Regions from separate parts of the Homo sapiens genome. Here regions 2 and 3 are each reported to be linked to region 1. Evidence: microRNA targets listed by miRTarBase, many of them from high-throughput screens and not tested one by one. Region 1 holds a microRNA gene; each other region holds the end of a gene's coding sequence.

Region 1 (5,071 bases):
TGGAGGAGGTGTTGTTGGAGGAGGCCTCACTAATGGGAGAAACAGAGGATGACCACGTTGTTCTATGACAACGGCCTCACACAGGCTCTGCACCTCACACTGGACTGTCTGCCCTGAGCTGTGTCTGCAGCAGCAGCCGTGGGGACCATGCTGAGGAGGAGGACACCATCACTGATGACCTTTGGGAGAAGAGTGAAGCTGCAGACAGGGCTCAGGGCAGACAGTCCAGCGTGAGGTGCAGAGCCTGGGTAACGCTGTTGTCATAGAAACAAAAATGTAGGGTGCACAGGGCAGTGATGAGTGATGGGGAAGGAAAAGCAGGTTTGGGGCAGCTGGCAGTGTGGGGAAGGAATCCAAGGAACGTCCGAACACCTGTGCAGAGCCTGGCATAGAAAAGGCACTTGCTGAGTACTAGTCTGTAAAATGAATGAATAAATGACTGAGTTAATTAAAGGATGCCTGTTAGGGCTAAAGCCTGTGGAATGGGCAGAATTTCCTGTATATCCGAAGGATCTGAGCTGGCTTGGGATGGGGTAGGCTGTGGGATGAAGGACTCTGGGGCCCAATACAGCCATAGGGAATCCTGGGCCGCTTGCAGAATGGTGTTGCTGGCACCTGAAGTGCATCCTCACCCACAGTCCTCCCTCTCTGGTCCCGCCAGTTTTGGCCCCTGCCTGTCCACACTAAGGCAGGCAGCTGTAGCCCAGAGGCCCCCAGGGAGGGCTGTGCACAAGGGCTGGCGCTTTGCCCCAAGAAGCCCATCCCTTTCTGCCAAGGCGCCTTTCCTAGGACCGTCTACGCTGTAGCGGCCCTCATCAGTCAGTGTTTTGGGGAGGACACCAAGGGCTGGGGGCTGTGGAGAGGGTCCTACTAGACAATAGTGACCAGAAAATGTCCTCTGAAGCAATACTTTCATCAGGAAGGAGAATGGGAAAGGAGCCCTTATGTTAAATGAGGAATTGATTGTATGAAGACAGAAATGATGTCCCCTTTATATAAGCCACTGAACTTGTTTTACAATGATCAGCTCAAGAATGTCTCTGACATTCTTGGTTTCTCCCTATTTTAAAAGGGATCAGATAGCATAGGAAACTTATTAGAATACAATAGTAAAATTTTACCCAATCTCTGCTGATCTCTGGCTTGCCTTTTTTTTAACACGGAGCTGAAAATCTACCAAAGCCTTCTGTGATGAGCCCCATTCTGCCCTACTTGACTGATTCATGGGCACCCAGCGCACTGCCCTGCATGCTGAGCTAGTCCCAGGGAGGCAGGAGGAGGGGCCTGAAACAAAGTAAAAGTCTGCCCCCAGCCTTTTAGTCTTTGATGAGCTTCTCATGTAATCGACATAGCCTGGAAAATCTCCTGGAAGAAGCGCCTGGTGGTACAGACAGTGCCTGCCGAGGAGCTAAGCAGGGTCAGAGATTTAGCCTGCAAAGGCCATGCAGAGAGCACGGCACACAGCAGGGGCCTAATAAAGACAAACTGAGTTAAGTCGAAGGTGAACTGAAGGTGGGAGGGGTAAACTCTGGGTAGCAGGACTAGGCCCCATCCAGCAGGTTTTCATTGAGAAGCTTTTCTTTCCGTTTAAAACTGACAGCCTGCAACCTATTTCCTGAATCCTTAAGCCTCATAGGTGCCCCAAAGGAACAAATTAACCAGAGCACAAAAGAGTGAGTGAACAGTGGGACTGATTTTTATTCTAAGAAGCTTCTCTCTTTCTGGGAACCAAATCATCTGCTGAGAGCAGAGGATGTACAGGCATAGGATAGGGGCTGAAGAGTGCGTGGGAGACCCTGGGGAGAACGAGGAGAGGAAGTACCAGACTACTAGACATGGCAGGACTACTCAGCAGTGTAGAGGAAGCCCTGAAGGGAGAGGAGGACGGCCAAGGGGCTTTGAGGCTCACGATGTGTGAGTCATTTTCTCTAGTGACGTGCTGCATGGAGAGAGAGCCAGGAAGATGGCCCAGGGCAGATTGTGTGGTTGGCTGGGCACGTAGACTCATGCAAACCAGGTGTGTCCTCGGGATAAATGCATTTTCCTCTTTTCTAGCTCTTCAGTGGTTCATGTGCCTGGAGTGAATGATATTCAGTCCTCTTCTTCCACGGGCCAGAACATGTCCCAAATCTCCCGGCAGCTAAACCAGAGTCAGGTGGCATGGACAGGGAGTCGTCCGCCCTTTCCGGGACAGGTATGGGCATCTGTGAGGGCATCTCCCCTGGGTGACCAGAGAGGCAGAGCACTCTGGGAAGTGTTTTCTTTGGATTGCGGTTCTGAGGATGGGTCGGCTCCTAGCTGGAACCAACCACCCTAACAGCAGCTGGCTACTCAGGAGCACCATCCACCCTCAGGGCTCTCGGAGAGCCAGGTGCCCAGCCTGCAACTTCAGCAGCCTTTTCTCCTTACAGCCATGCCCTGAGGCAGCTGGCAGGGAAAGGTTGGGCAGGTTGAGACACCTCATCAAGAATGAGCCCCTCACTACTCTGGACCTCTGGCTGCCCCTGCGCCAGGAGGGCATGAAACCACCAACCCTTGTGACATCCCCAGACCCTCATAGTCACTGTGAGGGTGGGTGTTGATTGGGCTGAGGGAGTTCTAGGTGTTCATAATGCCAAGGCCTTGGTAACCAGACTCCAGAGGGCCCGGATCCTCGTAGCCCTGGGGAGTAACTTCAACCAGACGTGCCCCAAAGATCCTGCAGTTCCTGGGCCCTCACACACCGGGCTGATCCCAGGCCTGTGCCTAGCCAGACAAGAGGGTCATGGGGAGTCACTGTCAACCCAGAGCAGGCACTGCCCCTGCGACCAGCCTGGGGCATCGGTTGGGGTGCAGGGGTCTGCTGGTGATGCTTTCCATCTCTTTGCTTTGTCCTGATTGTAGCAAATCCCATCTCAGTCCAGCAAGACTCAGTCATCTCCCTTTGGGATTGGAACGAGCCACACCTACCCGGCAGACCCCTCTTCCTACAGCCCCCTCTCCAGCCCAGCTACCTCCTCGCCAAGTGGGAATGCCTACTCCAGTCTTGCCAACAGGACTCCAGGGTTCGGTAGGTGGGGAATGAGGGAGTGAGATTCTGGGAAAGCCAGCACAAATGCTTTCTGAACAGCCTGAATTCAGGAGGCTGAGCTCCAAGCTCCCAGCTACCAAAACAAGGTCTGGAGGTTTCCAAGCACCTCCTCTCTCTCTGGCTATGAGGAGGCCTATGGTGTTCCTAAGAGACTGGATGCTTAGGCCTTGGCTTTGTGATTTGACTTTATCATTTTCAAGGCATTGGGATGATGTTGCTGTGCTGTGAGGTGATCTGAATACCATTTTAACCCATTATGGCCCTGGCAAGGATTTTCAGGTCCCCCAAGTCAAAAACCTTATAGTCTTGTTTCAAGAAACTAGAGAATAGCTATAGAGACAATCAATTGCATAAATAACACTGCAAAGTTTTCTGTCTCTTTTAAATATTAAAAACACCTATCTTACTTTGTTAACAAAACCTCAGGCCATAGAGGGTTAAGGAACCGCTGTGTCCTGTGCATTTCTCAGGATCCTGGGCCTTGCCCACTCTCCGTGTGTGTAAGGAACCTCCTCAGCATGTCTCCCAGGGCTAGGGTTCCACTCCACGTCAGGACAAGCTCATAAGAGACCCGTGGTCCTGGTAAGAAGTCCAAGCTGGTGCCTGCTTTCTCACAGTGAGGTCACTGGGTGACACCCAGCAGTGCGGCTCATAGAGCTTTTCTCTACAGAATTGATTCCTCAGATGAGCGTGAATCTGAGCCCAAACATCTGAATTTCCACGTGGCAAGTTAAAAGCTTCCATTAGAACTGCTTGTCTGTCAGCCTTATGAACAATTCTGTGCAGGCAGGGCGCGGTGACTCACATCTGTAATCCCAGCACTTTGAAAGGTCAAGGTGGCAGATCACCGGAGCCCAGGAGTTCAAGACTAGCCTGGGCAACATTGCAAAACCCTGTCTCTACAAAAAAAAAAAAAAAAAATTAGCCAGGTGTTGTGGTGCATGCCTGTAATTCCAGCTACTCAGGAGGCTAAGGTGGGAGGATCATTTGATCCCAGGAGGTTGAGGCTGCAGTGAGCCATGATCACACCACTGCACTCCAGCCTGGGTGACACAGTGAGACCCTGTCTGAAAAAACAAAAGAAAGAAAAATGCTGTGCAGAGCCCCTAGCACACAATGGGGAGTTGTCATCTGCTGCCCAGCCCTCCCCACCTCCTCCACTAACAGCAGCACGTCCGTCCCACTCAGCCCGAGGTCTTGGGGCACAGCATTTCCTGAGGCCATGCTTGTCCCTCCAGCCTTAGTCCCATTTACTTGCAGTGTGTCTCCTCTTCGTCTGTTAAGTATTCTCGCCACGTGGTTCACTGGAACCCAGTTTAGAAGCACAGCACCCTGTCTGAGGAAGGAGAAACCCCATAGCAGTTGCTCTCAAGTCAGCCAGGCACTCAGCACGGTTACCACCTTGAGCCCAGAATCCTGTTTCTCAGGATAGCATCCACCTTCCTGCAGTCACACGTGAGATCCTTCTCCACATCTGGTTCCCCACCCGGGTGTGGAGAGACCCCTTCACCTCCTCCTGAAGGTGGGCCTCATAGACTCAAGGCCTCCTGGGTACCTAGTCCTTCCCGGAAGCCCAGGGACCATCTGGCACCGATCTACTCAAAAAAACCTTCAGTGCCAGGCCCCGAATCAGCCCTGGAAGACAGGAGACCTGGTCCCCACCCAGAGAAGGACACAGTCCAGAGACTGGGTCAGGGGAGACAGACAGAGGTAAAGGGAGGCAGGCAGGACAGTCTGCAGGTGCGGCAGCCATGGTCTGCGTGGGGGCCCTTGTGGCTGCAGGCCAGGACAGTCGTTATGTCTGATGGGGTCAAGAGAGGCTTCGGAGCAGAGCTAACACGCAACCGTGGCAAGGTCTTGGAGCATCCCACTGTGGCCGTGACGAGACAGGTGGGCAGGCCACTTCCCTGCCCCAACCATCCAGTGCCTTTAGCTCCATGCCTCTGTCTAGTCTCCACTAAACAAATGCCAGGCCCTGAAGTATAAATGGAGACGGGACAC
Region 2 (5,066 bases), not on the chromosome of region 1:
CCTTGAAGACATGATTCTTATTAGACAACTACTGACCAAATGACAACTTCATCTTCAATGACCTTGATTTGGAATCTTGAAACTTACAACGAGTTCCTAATGAGAAAGGCATCACTCTTGGTCTCCATGTCTAAATATATTGACACACTCACTTCAAGATATGATGGCTGCCAAAATCAATATCCCAAGGCTTGAATATTTATGGGAGTAGGCATAAATTCGTGATTATATTCATGGTAATGAATATAATAAATCCTATGCATAGCCAACATCCAAGTTGAACTGGGGATGAGCAGGATACACAGAAAGCTCCTCACCTGCTTTGAGCAAGTTTTTCTTGCAAAGTTGTAATATGAAATACCTTAATCAACAAATTTCTTATAAATGTTTATATGAGTAGAAAATCCCTCAATTTCATTGTCACTCAAAAAGTTGATTATCTTTGCATTCTTTTGCTTGACATGTAAGCAATATGCTATTACATTCTCTAAGCCTATGCCAGGCTTTTAATTCACCTGACCATAATCCTAACCCAGGGGATAGAATTCCAAGAATATAAATTGGCTCAAAAGTAGTTCCAGTAGAACTTTACTGATTATTAAGGCAACTCTTAACCTCTTGAGGTTGGCCTGATAGAGAGAAACCATGTTCCTCCTTAATGCCACTACGAGAGAGATGGGGTTGGGGTGGGGGGAGAGGAGGAGGCGGCGGCGCGGCGAGAGAGAGAAATACTAGGCAATAAGACCCATAGATTAGAGCTAATGGCACTAATTATGTTCATACCTATCCGCAAGGAAGCAGGCAGGAGCAGACCTAATGAGCAATCTGACTGTGCTCTACATTTGGTCCACTTAAAATGAGAAGAATGTACAAGTTTTAGGGTTTTCTGTGTTGTAAGTTCCCAGAATAAACGTAGTTACAGGGTAGGGCTGCAGGTTAGGGACTGCCTGGAAGATAGGATGAAATGTATTTTGTTCATTTGATTTCTGTTTTTATTTCATCTTGAGCATGTGAAAAATCAGTGGCTTTTTAAACTTTCAAAGTTGACTGCCTAGACTGATAAGTTTAAGAACACACAAGTAAATGTCAACAGTCTCTTGTGTTGCTGACACACTCAAACCAGTGCTAAAACAATTTTTGTCTTAACTCTGAATTATACATGTTCAGACCTGCTATTGAAACAAATGCATTTTGATATTTGGATTTTTCTAAACTAAACACACAGCTGTGCTAGGCTCTTTGCTCTGTTAGCCTTCTGACCATTTTATAGCTCTAAGCATGTGATATTTTCTCCTAGAAGACTCCGAAGTGCTAGAATATTTTCAGAGGGCAAAGCCTTATAATAATTCTTACTGGAAGCAAACTAAACAAAAACCAAGTTCCAGAAAACATTGCTTCTGAGAAATTCTCAAATATCATCAAGAAGAATAAGTGGTTAACTTAAAAACAAAACTATGGCAATATGTTAAAGTACAATACTGCAGTAAGGGTAGAAAACACATCTAAGGTTTCACCCTTAGTGTTAAGCTTTTTAAAAGCAAAAAGGTCATGTGTATCAATTTGCAGTGTACTAAAATTGTGTTCAAAGTTTATTTCAAGTCACAGAAAATATACAAACTAAGACAATAAAATGAAGTGATTTTGTTCTGAGAGAAGGTGATGGGAGTCCTCCACCTGGCACTGATTTGAGTCATTCAAGGGTTAGGATGCAGGTCATCTTTTTTCAATATTTCAACAAAATTATAGAATTTCCAGATTTCTTGCCAGGTATTTTTGAAAACCTGTAAGAAGAAGTTAGGACAAAGCCATTAGAAGTGAAGACAAAGCTCTCTTCCGGAAAAACTTCAGGAAAAAAAATAAAAAGGCTAGGGGAGGGAGGACAGGCATATAATCAAATCACCAGGACAGATTTGCAAAGTATCTGTCTCCTGCCTCCTGACTCCTCAAAGCAATCAGCCCTTGCAGCAGGGTTTCTCAACCTCAGCACTACTGACATTTTGGGCTGGAGTACTAGTTGCTATTGGGAAGTGGGTGAGGGGGACCATCCTGTGCATTATGGGATGTTTAGCAGTATCTCTGGCCTCTACCCACTGAATGCCAGTAGCATGCCATACTCCCTAAAGTTGTGATGACCAAAAACGTCTCAAGACAATGTCACCTAGGGGGCAAAACTGCCCTTGTTTGAGAACCATTCATCTCTAATGACAACAGTATAGAAGCCTGTCCATGATGGCAGAGATGGATCACAACTAGCTAGGTATAGGATGGAGGAAAACCCAACACTTTAGCCATGGTATGCACAAACACCAGTAGACACACAATAAAATCTTGCCCACATAAAATTGCATAGAACCACACATACATATACACAAATCATGATAGTTTTTTTAAAATGGTGAAAACTGAGTTTGCAGTCAAGTTAACAGTAATGTGCCAATGTCAATTTCTTGGTTTTGCACTACACTGGGTGAAGGGTACATGAGACTCCTTGTACTATTTTTCCAACTTTCCTTGAGTCTATGATTATTTAAAAATAAAAGGTAAAAAAATAGACAAAAACTTTGCCTTGTGGTTAATATGCAAGGCCTTAAATTAAACATCCTATAAGCAAAACTATAATGAAAGAAATTTCAGAAACATTTCTACCTCTACTATCCAGAAACAGTAAGGAGTAATTTTCTCACATTGTAGGGAATGCCTTCTCTGGCTTAAGTAAATTAGTAAAAGAAATAATTTTTATTTATTCCTCTGAATGTAATAGGTAGTCTATACTTTTACTAAAAAAAAAGAATATGTGGGGTTTGTGGAATAAAACGTTAAGGTACCAAAAGTCTACTGAGCCTTCTATCTATGATAGCTTCTCATTAATTCATTTAAGGTCTAAATACATATATGATGCATAGTCGCAGTTTAAATGTTTAAAGACATCACAAGTATGGATTAAAATGATATATTTTGTAAGAGTGGTAATTATTAATAGTTAAATGAGTTCACTATTATATAACATAAGAATAGGAATTATAATATGGATGGGGTAAAAAGTAGAAATTTAAATTGTGCTGTCCTACCTGATAGTGGGGCAACATGAATTTTAAACTGTTTTTAGAAAAAAGAACTGTTTATAAAATACAAAATGCTGGGGAAATTTTTTTTAAAAAAGAAACACTGATACATGTATGTGTAATCAAGTTGTCACATGATTATTTATGAAGCAGGTTACCTGGATCCTTTTTTTTTTTTTTTTTTGACACAGAGTCTCACTCTGTGACCCAGGCTAGAGTGCAGTGGCATAATCATGGCTTACTGCAGCCCTGACCTCCTGGACTCAACCAGTCCTCCCACCTCGGCCTCACAAGTAGCTGGAACTATAGGCGCATCTCACCATGCCTGGCTAATTTTTTAAAAAATTTTTGTAAAGATGGGGTCTCACTATGTTGCTTAGGCTGGTCTTGAACTCCTGGTCTCAAGTAATCCTTCCACCTCAGCCTGCCAAAGCTGAGATTACAGGGCTCAGCCACTGTGCTTGGCCCCTGGATTCTTTCTGCCTAAATGATGAGCAAGAAAAATAAGGGTAGCAGGGTACAGCGATCTCCAAAATATATAGAAACTGATGGTGATGACGGACATTTACTACCTTAAATTATGTGCTACTATAGTTCAACATCAAAATATTCCCTATAAAATAAATACAAGAAACAAAATATTTACACATTTTATTGAAATGCTTTGTATTTTTCCATTTTGACAGGACAGTTTGGAATAAAATAATACAATTGATTGTAGAAGGATACACACCAAACTATATTTAGAGGTTTTGTCTGGGGAATGAGATTGAGGAAACAGGGCTTTTTACCTTTCACCTTCTACATTTCTGTATATGATTACTTTTGTTAAACTGATCATACATTACCTTTGTCATTAGGAAAGATTATAAGCAATTCAACAACTGAACAAACATTGTATAGCCTTACTCTATCCCTACAGGAGCTGACCTACTGAAGGGTAAAGAAGAGTCTAGCTGAGTGGATTGAGGGCCGCTGAGAGAACAATCTTGTTGGTTAAGGTTAAAAGTATATACCCAGAATAGACAAGGAGCTAGTCCTACTCAGATGGGGATTAAGTTTGCTCACCTATCAAGGTGCTCCAGTGGATTTCTGTATTTGTTCCTTTAAAATCAGGATACTCTGCCTTTGCTCAGGAGGCAACATGGCAATCTGGTCTGCAGTCAGTTGTAGAACCTGCATAATCAAAGCAGCCTGTGCAGAGGAAAAAAAAAAGGTAGTGAGTTTTAATGATGGCAGCTAAAAAATACAAAACAAAACAAAAAACCCACCACCAGCTTCTGTCCAAAAAGCTACTGTAGTGGGATATGAAGCAAAATGGAAAAAGGAAGAACATTTCACACAGAAAAAAACCAACAGCCCCCCTCCAAAAAAAATAAAAAATAAAAAAAAACTGGTGAGAAAAGGTACAATGAAAAGAACAAGTATAAATTAAAATACCTAAGATTAGACGATTCAAAACAGACAACTTCATGAACTCAAAGTTCCTGGAGACTAAGATGGTATCTGTGAGCCCTGGAAATCCTTCAAGTTTTAATCCTGTTTTGAAAGTCTCTCTTTTTCACAAATTTTAGCCTTTCCATCAGACATAAGCTCCCCACAATGGTCAAATATAAAAACAGAAAGATATAATCATGGGGAATCTACTATTGTTTTTAGGGATAAAGTAGAAAGGGAAGGAAAAAGGGTGTGGATTTTCAGGTCAATCTGGCCTGAACAAGAAAAACCTGCTATTGGCAGATGAGTGTGAAATATAAAATAAGCTGCCATTTACATCCACTTAAGAACTTCACATCCATTAGGAACTTCAGGACCAGACTCACAAATTTTCAGGTAACAAGATCATAAAAGAGTTCTAAGTTAGAATAAACATCACCTCCAAAGGGACTTTGAAGACCCAGGATCGTCACATGGTAACTGTGAAAAGAGGAATCAAAAAGGCTAGAATTGTGCATAAGGAGGCAGTCAGACAGTGTTGCTTACCTTCTCATGATCCTGTGGAGT
Region 3 (5,066 bases), not on the chromosome of region 1:
AGAATATTCCAAAGCAGCATTATTTAATGTCAAGTAAGAAGAAGAAACTTAAATGTTCATCACTGGGATTGATTAGATATTAAGTCACTGATGCAATGGAATTTTATATAGTTGAATAGAAAAGTTGGGCACATGTATTATGGACATGAAATATTTTCTGTAAGTTTGAAAACTTCAATTTTTTCAAGAGCATTTAAATAAAAAGTTCCTTGCAAAAAAATGAATAGATTTTTATTGGTCCATAAATAAAATAGGACCTGCAAAGAATAGATCTTAGATTTAAATAAAAGGCGGCTTTGATGTTGGTAAAACAAAATAAAATATGACAAAAAAAATATTTTTTTGTTCCATTCATTGTACTCTAGTTGGAAATCCTGGTTCCTTTTTTGAGACAGGTTCTCTCTCTCACTCAGGCTGGAGTGCAGTGGCACAATCAAGTTCACTGCAGGCTTGAACTCCTGGGTTCAAGGGATCCTTCTGCCTCTGCCTCCTGAGTAGCTGGGATTAGTCGTGTGCCACCACACCTGACTAATTTTTTGTACTCTTTGTAGAAATGGGGCTTCACCATATTGCCCAGGCTGGTCTCGAGCTCCCGCACTCAAGCAGTCTACTCACCTCAGCTCCCAAAGTGCTGTGATTACAGGCATGAGCCACCACACCTGGACTGAGTTATTTTTTTTGAGACAGCCTTGCTCTGTCGCCCAGGCTGGAGTGCAGAGGCGTGATCTCAGCTCACTGCAATCGCTGCCTCCTGGGTTCAAGTGATCCCCCTTCCTCAGTCACCCAGATAGCTGGGACTACAGGCATGGGCCACCACACCCAGCTAATTTTTGTATTTTTAGTAGAGATGGAGTTTCACTATGTTGGCCAGGCTGGTCCCAAACTCCTGACCTCAAGCCATCCATCCACCTCAGCCTCCCAAAGTGCTGGGATTGAGCCACTGCACCTGGCCTATGTTTTAATATAAACAAATTTCTTAATGCCTTTGACTGTGGAAGTGGTCACATGACAATAAAGGAATGCTTTAGAAATTGTTGTATCTACAATGAATGGATCATTGGGACATCACCAGAAACTTTCCGTCTTCTAGGTTAATCCTTATAAAGTTATCCTTGAAGTAGAGGAGCAATTGTAAGATTTTGTTTTTTTTGGCAAAGCACAGCATGACTTGAATGAGACTAATGAGGACCAGTTTGTCATCTACAGGGACTAGACATCTTAATATCTGTTTTCTGTCGAAGGGCTGGAGGGGCAGGGTACATCCAAGCACTCTAGAATCTGTTTTCCGTATGCGATGTATAGGTTGAAACTTTTGCACAAGGGAAAATAGCAAAATTGTTTAAATTAACCAGAAGTCTGTAACTAGGTTGAGTAAGGGCTAAATATTATCTTTTCTTGTTTTTCATTAGGAACACGTGATGATAGTCGTGGTGGTGGTGAGGGTGACTGGATTCAGAAATGAGTGCAACAAGGCTTTGAGGCTTAATTTTCTAGTTTCTAGAAACGAAGCTTAGAACAAGAGTACTGATCAAAATTTCCCTTAGCTATTACTGTTAGTATGGTTTGCATCTAGAATGACACAGAAAGCTCATGACCCGTATCTTCTCTAATGGCAGCAAGGAAAACAGGAAGCTTAACAACACAGGGATTTAGCCTTGGGTAATCAGGAAGGGTGTAAAGCAAGGTTACTGACACTTATAAATGTCTGTGATCCGATTTTTGGCTGGGCATGGTGGCTTATGCCTGTAATTTCACTACTTTGGGAGGCCCAGATGGGAAGATTGCTTGAGCCCAGGAGTTTGAGACCGGCCTGGGTAAGATGGGAAGACCCCATCTCTGCAAAAAATATAAAAAATGAGGCAGACATGGTGGTATGTACCTGTGATCCCAGCTACTGAAGAGGCTGAGGTGGGAGGATTGCTTGAACCCAGGAAGTTGAGGCTGCAGTGAGTTGCGTTCATACCACTGCACCCCAGCCTGGGTGACAGAGCAAGACCCTGCCTAAAAATAAAATAAAATTAAATTAAAAAGTCCGATTTTTGGCAGATGAAAAAGTTGGTAGTTTGATTTGGAACTCATGGAAACTTTCTGAAGTTCATGATTAATCTTTTCCTATATTTTGAATTTTTAGGACAAGGAGACTGGCTTTCACAGAGGTTTGGGTTGGGTTCAGTTTTCTTCAGAAGAAGGACTTCGGAATGCACTACAACAGGAAAATCATATTATAGATGGAGTAAAGGTAAATTTATTTCTATGCCAGATACATACATGATATACATGTAGGTACTATTTAATTATGTATCAATTAAATAGATCATAAATGTGGAATGATGGGGACTTGGAGAGATTTGTAACTGAAGCTGCCTTAATGCTTGTTAAGAATGGTGGGGTGGAGGCTGGGCACGGTGGCTCACGCCTGTAATCCCAGCACTTTGGGAGGCCGAGGCGGGCGGATCACAAGGTCAGGAGATCGAGACCATCCTGGCTAACACGGTGAAACCCCGTCTCTACTAAAAATACAAAAAATTAGCCTGGCAAGGTGGCGGGCGCCTGTAGTCCCAGCTACTCGGGAGGCTGAGGCAGGAGAATGGCGTGAACCCCAGGGGGTGGAGCCTGCAGTGAGCCGAGATTGCGCCACTGCACTCCAGCCTGGGCGATAGCGAGACTCCATCTCAAACAAACAAACAAACAAAACAACAACAAAAAAAGAATGGTGCGGTGGTAGGCCAGGCGCAGTGGTTCATGCCTATAATCCCAGCACTTTGGGAGGCCGAGGCGGGGGGGATCACCAGAGGTCAGGAGTTTGAGACCAGCCTGACCAACATGGAGAAACCCCATCTCTACTAAAAATACAAAAAAAATTAGATGGGCGTGGTGGCACATGCCTGTAGTCCCAGCTACTCAGGAGACTGAGGCAGGAGAACCCAAGAGACAGAGGTTGCAGTGAACTAAAATCGCGCCATTGCACTCCAGCCTGGGCAACAAGAGCAAAACTCCATCTCAAAAAAAAAAAAAAAAAAAAAATGGGGGGTGGTAGAGTGCCCAGTTTTAAAAGGTCCAGGAAAGTACAAGATGACCCTTTAATGGGTAGCAAGATATGTAACACAGTGGACATAACAGTCTACTTTTCTTTTTTCTTTTTGAGAGTCTTGCTCTTGTTGCCCAGGCTAGAGTGCAATGGTGCAATCTTGGATCACTGCAACCTCCGCCTCCTGGGTTCAAGCGATTCTCCTGCCTCAACCTCCCGAGTAGCTGGGATTACAGGCATGCGCCACCACGCACTGCTAATTTTTTTTGTATTTTTAGTAGAGATTGGGTTTCATCATGTTGGTCAGGCTGGTCTCAAACTCCTGACCTCAGGCAATCCGCCCACCTCGGCCTCCCAAAGTGCTGGGATTACAGGCGTGAGCCACAGCGCCTGGCCAGCAGTCTGCTTTTCAGGTCAGGCAAGCTGGGGCTGAAATCTTGGCTTACCCACCATGTGATCCTGGGCCAAACTGATTTACTATTTTATTTTAAATTTTAGTTTTAATGAGACAGGGCCTTGCTATGTTGCAGGGTGGTGTTGAACTCCTGGCCTCAAGCAATCCTCTTGCCTCAGCTTGCCAAAATGCTGGCATTACAGGCCTGAGCCACTGCCCCTGGTCTGATTTACAATTTTTAATTGAGGGTTAGGGAGTCATAATACCAACAAAGATGGTAAAAGGAATTTGAGGAGAAAACGAAAGAACAAGGGACAAATAAAAACTGCCTGGGTTATTCATTATTCATACTGACTCCCTAATAAAGTGATTTTCAGTTTGAATGTTTTTGCAGACATTGCCTTTCCTCCCTTACAGTGCTTATTTTTTTAAGGTCCAGGTTCACACTAGAAGGCCAAAACTTCCGCAAACATCTGATGATGAAAAGAAAGATTTTTGAGACTGCAGCCTATTAATAAAGTTAACATAACTGAGAATTTTGTCTAAATGTTTTTATTTGAAACAAATAGTTGCACCAAGCAAGAGGTTACTTTGCCCACTCCAAATTAAAACAGAGCACAATAGGGGCAAAATTTATTTGGCAGGACAGTTCCAGTATGTGAACATCTTCCTCCTCACTGTGGTTGGGGTAACTTTACTCATATGCAGCTGTTCTTACACAAAACATTAACCCCAAACTACTAGTGTCACATAAAAGTAAGTGGTCTTGACTTTGTATGTGGGGCAGCATGTTCTATAAATGCTGAAAGGTGGGAGAAGCACAAACACAACCCACTCTTTAAAAAAAACTAAATAATTCAAAGTAGAATTTTCTATCCCCCCCATTTCTCCAGTAATAAAAAGTAGTGCTGGGATCTGGCACCCAGATTTGGTTTTTATCCTGACCATTTACAAAGTGTTCCCCCATATGACTTGCATCATTAGGGTTATGGGTAAGAGTTCATTCACTTTGGAGAGACCTGTGCCTATTCCTTCCTCCTCTTCTTGCCTTCATGCTCGTGTTCCTTGGGGCGGCTGCTATCTGAGGGTCTTTTAGAGCCACCATGCTGTTTGGCTTCTTCCAAAAACTTGTCCAAACCAAAAGGATCTTCCTCAAACTGCACTGGTCCTTCTCGGCCTCTCTGTCTACGGTCTGAACCAGAAAACTCCTTGTCGGGAACAAATCTAAGGAAAAGGAGAAAAAACTATGAACTACTTTGCTTTCACCAGTGTAAACACTGAAATTGAGTTGTATGGCTTGGCACCTGTTGGTCTTTATTCTGGCTTCTAGGTCATCACCATACATGTCCTTGTCCAGATTTTTACTGGGCCTATAAATACTCTGGGCCATATCTTTACCACCTCTCCAGGCTTGATCATAAACATTATAAATTTCATCTTCTCCACCTGCAAATCCACTGTCCATACCCTGTGGAAAAATGGATGACATTAAATAAAAGTGTAAACATTGTTTATCAAAAGCTGAATCATAACATGTTTACAGTAAACCCTTGCTAATGTACAGCTCACATTTTCAACAATCTGAACTGCAAATTAAAAAGTCTTCATTAAAAAACTGGTAGCACATGAACTTCATAACAACTT

What was found. Region 1 holds the annotated microRNA hsa-miR-5572 (GUUGGGGUGCAGGGGUCUGCU, at 2,824-2,844, shown strand). A microRNA usually pairs through its seed, bases 2 to 8, with sites in the 3' UTR of a target mRNA and lowers its output. Matches are read on the target gene's strand: a 7mer-m8 pairs with bases 2 to 8, a 7mer-A1 pairs with bases 2 to 7 and ends in A, and an 8mer does both.
Region 2: the mRNA of CSTF2 is a reported target of hsa-miR-5572. The part of its 3' UTR that is shown has no 7-base or 8-base seed match.
Region 3: the mRNA of SNW1 is a reported target of hsa-miR-5572. Seed matches in the 3' UTR shown: 7mer-m8 at 4,106-4,112.

What each region holds. Positions count from the first base shown.
Region 1 is chr15:80,578,356-80,583,426 of GRCh38, forward strand. It overlaps MIR5572 (microRNA 5572), which reads left to right and starts at 2,748; the gene lies at 2,748-2,884. It overlaps ARNT2 (aryl hydrocarbon receptor nuclear translocator 2), which reads left to right. Exons shown (of 19, transcript NM_014862.4): 16 at 2,056-2,194; 17 at 2,884-3,049. ARNT2-AS1 (ARNT2 antisense RNA 1) reads right to left here. Exons shown (of 2, transcript XR_007064732.1): 2 at 1,675-4,406.
Region 2 is chrX:100,837,429-100,842,494 of GRCh38, reverse strand. It overlaps CSTF2 (cleavage stimulation factor subunit 2), which reads right to left. Exons shown (of 14, transcript NM_001325.3): 12 at 5,046-5,066; 13 at 4,131-4,256; 14 at 975-1,781. The coding sequence ends at 4,134. Among named protein-coding and RNA genes, the nearest start is that of CSTF2, 20 kb to the right of the region's middle.
Region 3 is chr14:77,713,641-77,718,706 of GRCh38, forward strand. SNW1 (SNW domain containing 1) reads right to left here. Exons shown (of 14, transcript NM_012245.3): 13 at 4,727-4,890; 14 at 3,959-4,646. The coding sequence ends at 4,448. SLIRP (SRA stem-loop interacting RNA binding protein) reads left to right here. Exons shown (of 4, transcript NM_031210.6): 3 at 2,132-2,239; 4 at 3,856-3,958. The coding sequence ends at 3,921. Among named protein-coding and RNA genes, the nearest start is that of SLIRP, 8.1 kb to the left of the region's middle.